Homo sapiens: one gene and its partner. The protein of the gene in region 2 purifies or fractionates together with the protein of the main gene of each other region. This does not show direct contact. Each region holds a gene or a part of one and is shown on either strand. Other genes may lie near its edges.

Region 1 (3,500 bases), on a different chromosome or scaffold from region 2:
GTAGCTGGGATTACAGGCGTGCGCCCTGTACTCCCAGCTAATTTTTGTATTTTTAGTAGAGACGAGGGTTTCACCATGTTAGCCAGGATGGTCTCAATCTCCTGACCTCGTGATCCGCCTGCCTCCGCTTTTCAAAGTGCTGGGTTTACAGGCCCGAGCCACCGTGCCCAGCTGCCATTTCCAATTCTAATTAATAAATGATCCATTTCTTTCCATTCGATCGGTGTTTGCTTCATGGATTTTGGGCTCTGTGGTTAGATGCATTCACACGTATCATTGCTGTATCTTCCTGCTGTATTGGCCTGTTTCTGGCTGTGAAGTCCTTGCTCCTTCTTGTTTCTAGCTTTTTTTTGAGACAGGGTCTTGGTTTGTCACCCAGGCTGGAGTGCAGTGGCGCAATCTCGGCTCACTGCAACCTCCATCTCACGAGTTCAAGTGATTCTCATACCTGAGCCTCCCGAGTAGCTGGGATTACAGGTGTGCGCCACCACACCCAGGTGATTTTTGTAGAGACAGGGTTTCACCATGTTGGCCAGGCTGGTTTCTAATATTTCTTAACATCTGTTTTGTCTGGTATGAGTACAGCCATTCAAGCTCTCCTATGACAGCTGATGTTTGTACGCTGCGTCTTTTCCTGTTCTCTAGCAGACAGCATACAGTTAGATCTTGTTTTTCTATCTGATAATCTGCCCTGTCTGTTTGGGGCACAGAGACCTTTCACATGTCATATAATTACACGTACAGTTGGATTTACTTTCCTTGCTTTGTTGTGTCTTTTTTATTCTTCCCTTTTTGATTTTAAATTACATATGTTTAGCATACCATTTTAATTTATTTGTACTTTTTAAAACACTAAGAAAACAACTTTCTTAGTGGTTGCTCTAGGGATCACCGTATGCCTCATGATACTAGCTCAAGTCCAGTACAATATAAAACTGTTGTAACACAGCTTTATTCCCTGTCTTCTTTGTGCAGTCCATTTATGCCACATACCATGACAACAGTGTAATTATTTTATACAATCGTAGTTCCAGTAAAACCTAAGATGTGAGGAGAGATAGTTACAGGATATTGACGTCAACCTACACTTGCTATCTGCAGTGCCTGTCCTTCCTTCCTGAGGATTCAAGTTACCGTCTGGTGTCATTTCTATTCAACTTGAAGGTCTTCCTTTAGTATTTCCTTTAAGGCAGGTTTCGCCAACAATGAATCCCACCAGTCTCTGCTTCTCAGGGAATGTCGTTCGTTCCCTTTCACTTGTGTAGAACGGTTTTGATTCCTGGCTGATGGTTCTTCTCTCTGAGCAGCTTGAGTATGCCACTCCACTGCCTTCTGGCCTCCATTGTTTCTAAGAAGTCAGTGGCTGGCGGTATTGAAGCTCCCCTTTCATGGGATGGGTCATTCTTCTCTGAGGCCTTTCAACATTTTCTCTTTGGCCTTTGCCAGTTTGACTATGATGTGACTTTGCATTTATTCTAGTTCAAACTTCCTGTGCTCTTGAATGTGCATATTTTTTAATTAAAATTTGGAAAGTTTTTAACCATTATTGTAACAAATATCTTTCCTCTCTCCTGGAACCCCCATTCGACGTGCTTTGGTACAGCAGATGTTGTACCACGGGTTTCTGAGGCTCTGTGCATTTTTCTTGTTTTTTTCTCTCTGTTCTTCAGAATGGATAATTTCTACTGCTCCATCCACAAGTTGTTTCCAAGCCTTTACTAAATTCAACATCTGGACACTCAGACAGTTTTTACTGATGATGTTCTTCCTCAGTATGGGTCACACTGTCATACTTCTTTGTATTTTAGATAATACATTTGTAGCAATTCTGGATTCTAAGTTTTCCCTTTCGTTGTTACCACCGAGGCCTGTCTGGTTGTCCGTGAAATCCATCTCCCTCACAGCTCGTGGCCACCCCGTTCCTTCCCACATGCCTATTTTAATTTTCAACCTTGGCTTCCTAGGGGTCACCACCATGGCTGCACAGCTTAGCAATTAGCCAGCACTGGAAAAAGGCTGGGCTCAAATACCTCGAGCACAGTAAGGCTTCCTTGGCCCACGGCTGTGTGTGGACAGGGAGCACACTGAACGTTCACGCGTCATTCGCATCTGTGGCGGCTTCTATTTTCTGCCAGGTCCTTTCACGCAGCTGCATCCTCAGGGCTGGTCACAAGTGGGTGGCGGCTCGAGCTCTCTCCAGTCTCTGCTGCACGTCTTTGGCGAGATCACAGCTGCTCCCAACCACACTGTACTTCATTCTAGCAGACCTCTTGGCCTTTTCTTCCTCCCTCCACTGAGGATGCTGGTGGGCAAGGCCACTGCCCACTGCTCTAAACGGAGTAACCCCTTCCAAGGCAGCAAGGAAACTGCAGGTCCTGCAGCTGCCCTGTCCCAGTGGAACCTCCGTGCTTCCCAAGTGCAGAGTGGAAGCAGTAAAGGGAGCAGCTCTCAGGCCAGAAGGTCAGATTCTTACTGCTTTCACCCACAGCTCAGCAGTTTTCCAAGCATCAGTGCTTCTCAGATTATCCTTATCAGTTTCCTTTTTGTCAGAGACAAGGTCTCCCTACGTTGCCCAGGCTGGCGTCATGCGGTCCTCTGGCCTTAGCCTCCCACGTAGCATATGCTACCATACCCAGTTCTGGATTGGCTGATCTGAATCGGCCCTACCCAGAAGTCTGCCCCCAACAATTTTTGCTCATTCACTCTCCTGTCTTTACCTTCTGGGAAATCAATATGACAGCCCAAATTTCATCTACCAACCTCCACTTCTATCCCAAGCTGTACTCTCGTGGGACAAGACACACTCAATGTCTGGCACAGGGTGTGGCATACATGAATGTTTCACACACTAACAGGAACTAGGCCAACTGAAACCTTGCTCACCCCGCAGCGGTCTCGGACCTTGACCCCTGGGCCTCAGTGTCTCCCACACCCTTCGGCATCAACAAGAACCAGCGCCCTCTCATCATCTTTACATGCTGTGTACCCAGCCCTGGCTGCTGGCAAACATCGCTGCCCTTCCGCTTCAGACTCCTCTCTTCCTGGAGCAGCTTGCAAGCTTTCTGTGGACTCACTCTGAAGGCGGAGATGGGCCTGCTCCCACCTGGCCTACAGCCTTTTTCCTGGTTCACGGAACAGATCTGGGGCTACACCGATGTTCTTTCTTGGGAATCTGGCTCATAAAGGGGAACGAATATATAAACTAATGGCCAGGAGTCCTGGGAGTCCAGGGTCCCGAATTCCAGACTGTTTCAAGGTTTTTAGGATCTCCCTTCTCCTTTTTTTGAGACAGTCTCACTCTGTCAACCAGGCTGGAGTGCAATAGCATGGTCATAGCTTACTGCAGCCTTGACCTCCAGGCTCAAGGGATCCAACCACCTCAGCCTCCTAAAGTGCTAGGATTACAGGCATGAGCCACCGCGCCCGGCCGGACATGCAGATTTCTGATCCCTTCATTGTCTTCCCTCAATCAAATCACACCCGTTCTTACTTCCAGATGC
Region 2 (3,500 bases):
ACTAAAATGGAATTCTGGACCAAAGATGAACCAAGAAGTGGTGTCTCTGATACCTGTCCATCTACTTTTGGTTTCCTAGCTGCCTGATTAGCCTATTAAAATAAAACACAGAAGAAGCAGTGATATAGCAAAATAATTTAATGCAAATTTCTTGTCTTATAAAAGTTATATATTAAAAACATTATATATTAAACATATGGAAATAAAATGACCTGGGGTTCAAGATTTTATGTTGTCAGTAAATAAATGCCTTAGAGGCATAAAAGGCTATAAAAAATTGAAAACACCCATTTTAGAATCAGATACAAGTTAAATCCTAGCCCAGCACTTCAGAAAGTAATTTAACTTGTCTAGGCTTCAGTTTCCCCATTTGTAAAATGAAGAGGATACTTTTGTCATAATCACTGCAAAAAATTTTTTAAAAGTATAATGTACTTTAGCAAAGTCCACTGGACTCAGTAGTTGAATATGTGAGTATATGTAACTTGAGATACGTTGAATTATTCAGGAATACTGCAAAGATTATTTAACCACAAAAATTCAAACTGGTTAGCTATGTAAATGTTACATAAAAGACTGAAATTCTGTTAAACCCTGTCAATTCTCTTACCCTCCAGTTTCGAATCTTCTTCAACCTATTAGGCGTTTTCTCCAATATTTGTAGAAACTCATGTGTTAGCTCTAAAAATAAAATTTAAATTTGAAACTTAGAAGGTGCCTTTAGGATTTAAATTTCTCTTAAGTGGGCAGTATTAAAAAGGAATGCTAGGAGTTCATCTACTTCACTTTTACCCTCCTATTAAATCCTCAGCATACACAGAAGTACACACAACTCTCAACCGGCATTTTCAAAGCTGAATCCTTTTGTAACGATTACTTTCCCTCTTGATTTTACTTGCTTAATTAGAATCTCTAGAAAATCTAGTAGCATTAAAAATAATCACCCCCCCAATAAAAAAAAAATCTTCATTAGGCAAACACCACAATAATTTTTGTCACAGACAAGATCTATCAAAAGATTCTTTAAAATTAGTGGACAAAAGTTTGAGGAAAAACGTTATTTGTATAATCCCAACGTATCTTCCCCATGAAATGTATTAATTACAAAGAGAAAAAAAATAGTGACTTTAAAGTGCAGAAACCACTTTAAGGATACCACTGTAACCAAGTGATCACGGTTGTCATGACCAGTTATAAGACGTATCAACATACTGTACCCCTTGATATGATGCACCAAGCAAGACCCAATTTACTTCTATGGTATTCTTGCTCAAAATGGATAACTTCGACATAATAATGAGAAATCATCAGACAAACCCCAACTAAGGAACACTGTATAAAATGACCATTATTCTCCTAAGTGTCAGTGTTATGAAAGACAAGGAAAGATTGGAGAACTGTCACAGACTGGAGAAGACTTGAAGGGACATGTCAACTAAATGGAACATGGGATCCTAGAATAGGGAAAAATATGGAATACTGAATAACATCTGTGGTTTAGTTAACAGTATTGTACCAATGTTAACTTCCTAGTTTTGATAATCATATATTGTTATGTAAGATGTTAGTACCAGGAGAAGCTAAAGGGTATACAGGGAACTATGCAATATTTTGCATTTCTTTCTTTCTTTTTTTTGTTAAATAACAGAGACAGGGTCTCGCTATGTTGACCAGGCTGGTCTCAAACTCCTGGCCTCAAGTGATCCTCCTATCTTGGCCTCCCAAAGTGCTGGAATTACAGGTGTGAGCCACCACACCCAGACTTTTTTTTTAAAGGGGAAAATTCCTCCAAATATACTTCCTAGCTATCAACACTATTAATATATTAGCAAACTATCTTCATTGTAAATTTCTACCAACTTTCTTAAAATTCTGATTACAATCAAATGACCCACTTTTCCAAAGTAGTGTGGTTTTGATGAACTAATAATGTCATTAATAGTTACTAGCCACTCTCAAATATTCATCAGTCAAATACATCAGAATATTATATAATATTAATAATGCCAATTCCACCTCAATACTGGGGGAACCTCTATTAATAGAGACTACAGGTTCATTTTGTAATAGCAAGCTTTTTTGTAAACTATTCTAAGCCAATGTTAAGATCGACACTTCAGACAAGCTATAATTTAACCATTAATCTTTCAAGATGTAATTTCCTTGACAATGTCATGACTAGTCCCTGCTAAAGTCTCATGAGCTTTTTCATCCAGTTTGGATGAAAAAAACCCTAATGCCCAGACCTTTACTTCCTCATTTGAAAAAAAAAGAAAAAAAAAAAGACTATTTTTCTACTTTTGGGTCCAACATTAACAAAACTGTTTTGACTCAATTTCTGTTAACAACTTGGTTGTAAAACATTAAATACACTTCAAGTTCTGGTCCAAAATCTCGTACACAAAATGTAAGCTTTGTTTTTCTTAAGTATCCTACTGTATTAAATTTTATAGCAGAACAACAAAAGAATCTGTTAAATAATCCATTAACATAATTAATTAGCTATATGCACAAAAATCACAGTATGTGCCTAAAATAGAGGCCCTTCTCTCTCAAAGCTACTGTCTAAGCCAATGTTCTTTTCTGGAACACAATCATTAAGTGAATTATTTCAGTAAGTAATAAGAATAGTAGTATCACTTCACTCTACAATTCAGATAAATCTTCATGTCTTTTTTTTTCCCCCCAGACAGGGTTTCCTCTGTTGCCCAGGCTGGAGAGCAGTAGCATTATCACAGCTCACTACAACCTTGACGTCTCAGGCTCAGGTGATCCTCCCACCTTAGCCTCCACAGTAGTTGGGTCTATAGGAGTGCGCCACCATGCCCGGTTTGTGTGTATTTTTAGTAGAAACGTGGTTTTGCCATGTTGCTCAGGCTGGGCTCAAACTCCTGTGCTCAAGATATGTGAGTGACTGCACCCGGCCACACCTTCATGTCTTTAATTTTGAATTGCCTTTTTGTGACTGACACAGAAAAAAAAGCTGCTGCAAAACATGGTGAAAGTCTTAACATATCAGTTCTCCAAGATTCCTATTCAATTGCTCTCCAAATTAACAAACTTTACTTTTCAGAATGGAAATGAGGTAGCTCCTCCTGTGTCAAAAAACCCCACATAAACCACAACCTAACCTCTGACCTAAAGACAGGATAAAAGGCAGATTACTTTTCTGTGATCTTTTTACTTCAGCACCAGGTATATAAACTATTTTTATTACGATTATGCCTACTGGCTGGGTGTGGTGGTTCACGCCTGTAATCCTAACACTTTGAGGCCAAGGTGGGTGGATCATGAGGTCAGGAGTTCAAGACCAGCCTGGCCAACATGGTGAAAACCCTATCTCTACTAAAAATACAAAAATTAGCCAGGCGTGGTGGCAGGCACCTGTAATCCCAGCTACTCAGGAGGCTGAGGCAGAGAACTGCTTGAACCCGGGAGGCGGAGGGTGCAGCGAGCCGAGATTGCGCCACCGCACTCTATAGCCTGGGCGACTGAGACTC

What was found. Proteins that work in one complex are often made in the same cells at the same time.
Region 1: the proteins of CCNT2 (region 2) and CDK11B purify together in Homo sapiens (affinity purification with mass spectrometry, with the first as the bait; one large-scale study listed by BioGRID). This does not show direct contact.

Annotation. Positions count from the first base shown.
Region 1 is NC_000001.11:1,645,505-1,649,004, forward strand, and holds part of CDK11B (cyclin-dependent kinase 11B), read right to left. Parts: intron 1-3,500. UniProt on the Homo sapiens protein: Plays multiple roles in cell cycle progression, cytokinesis and apoptosis. Involved in pre-mRNA splicing in a kinase activity-dependent manner. Isoform 7 may act as a negative regulator of normal cell cycle progression.
Region 2 is NC_000002.12:134,949,822-134,953,321, reverse strand, and holds part of CCNT2 (cyclin-T2), read right to left. Parts: intron 682-3,500; coding exon 611-681; intron 93-610; coding exon 1-92. UniProt on the Homo sapiens protein: Regulatory subunit of the cyclin-dependent kinase pair (CDK9/cyclin T) complex, also called positive transcription elongation factor B (P-TEFB), which is proposed to facilitate the transition from abortive to production elongation by phosphorylating the CTD (carboxy-terminal domain) of the large subunit of RNA polymerase II (RNAP II).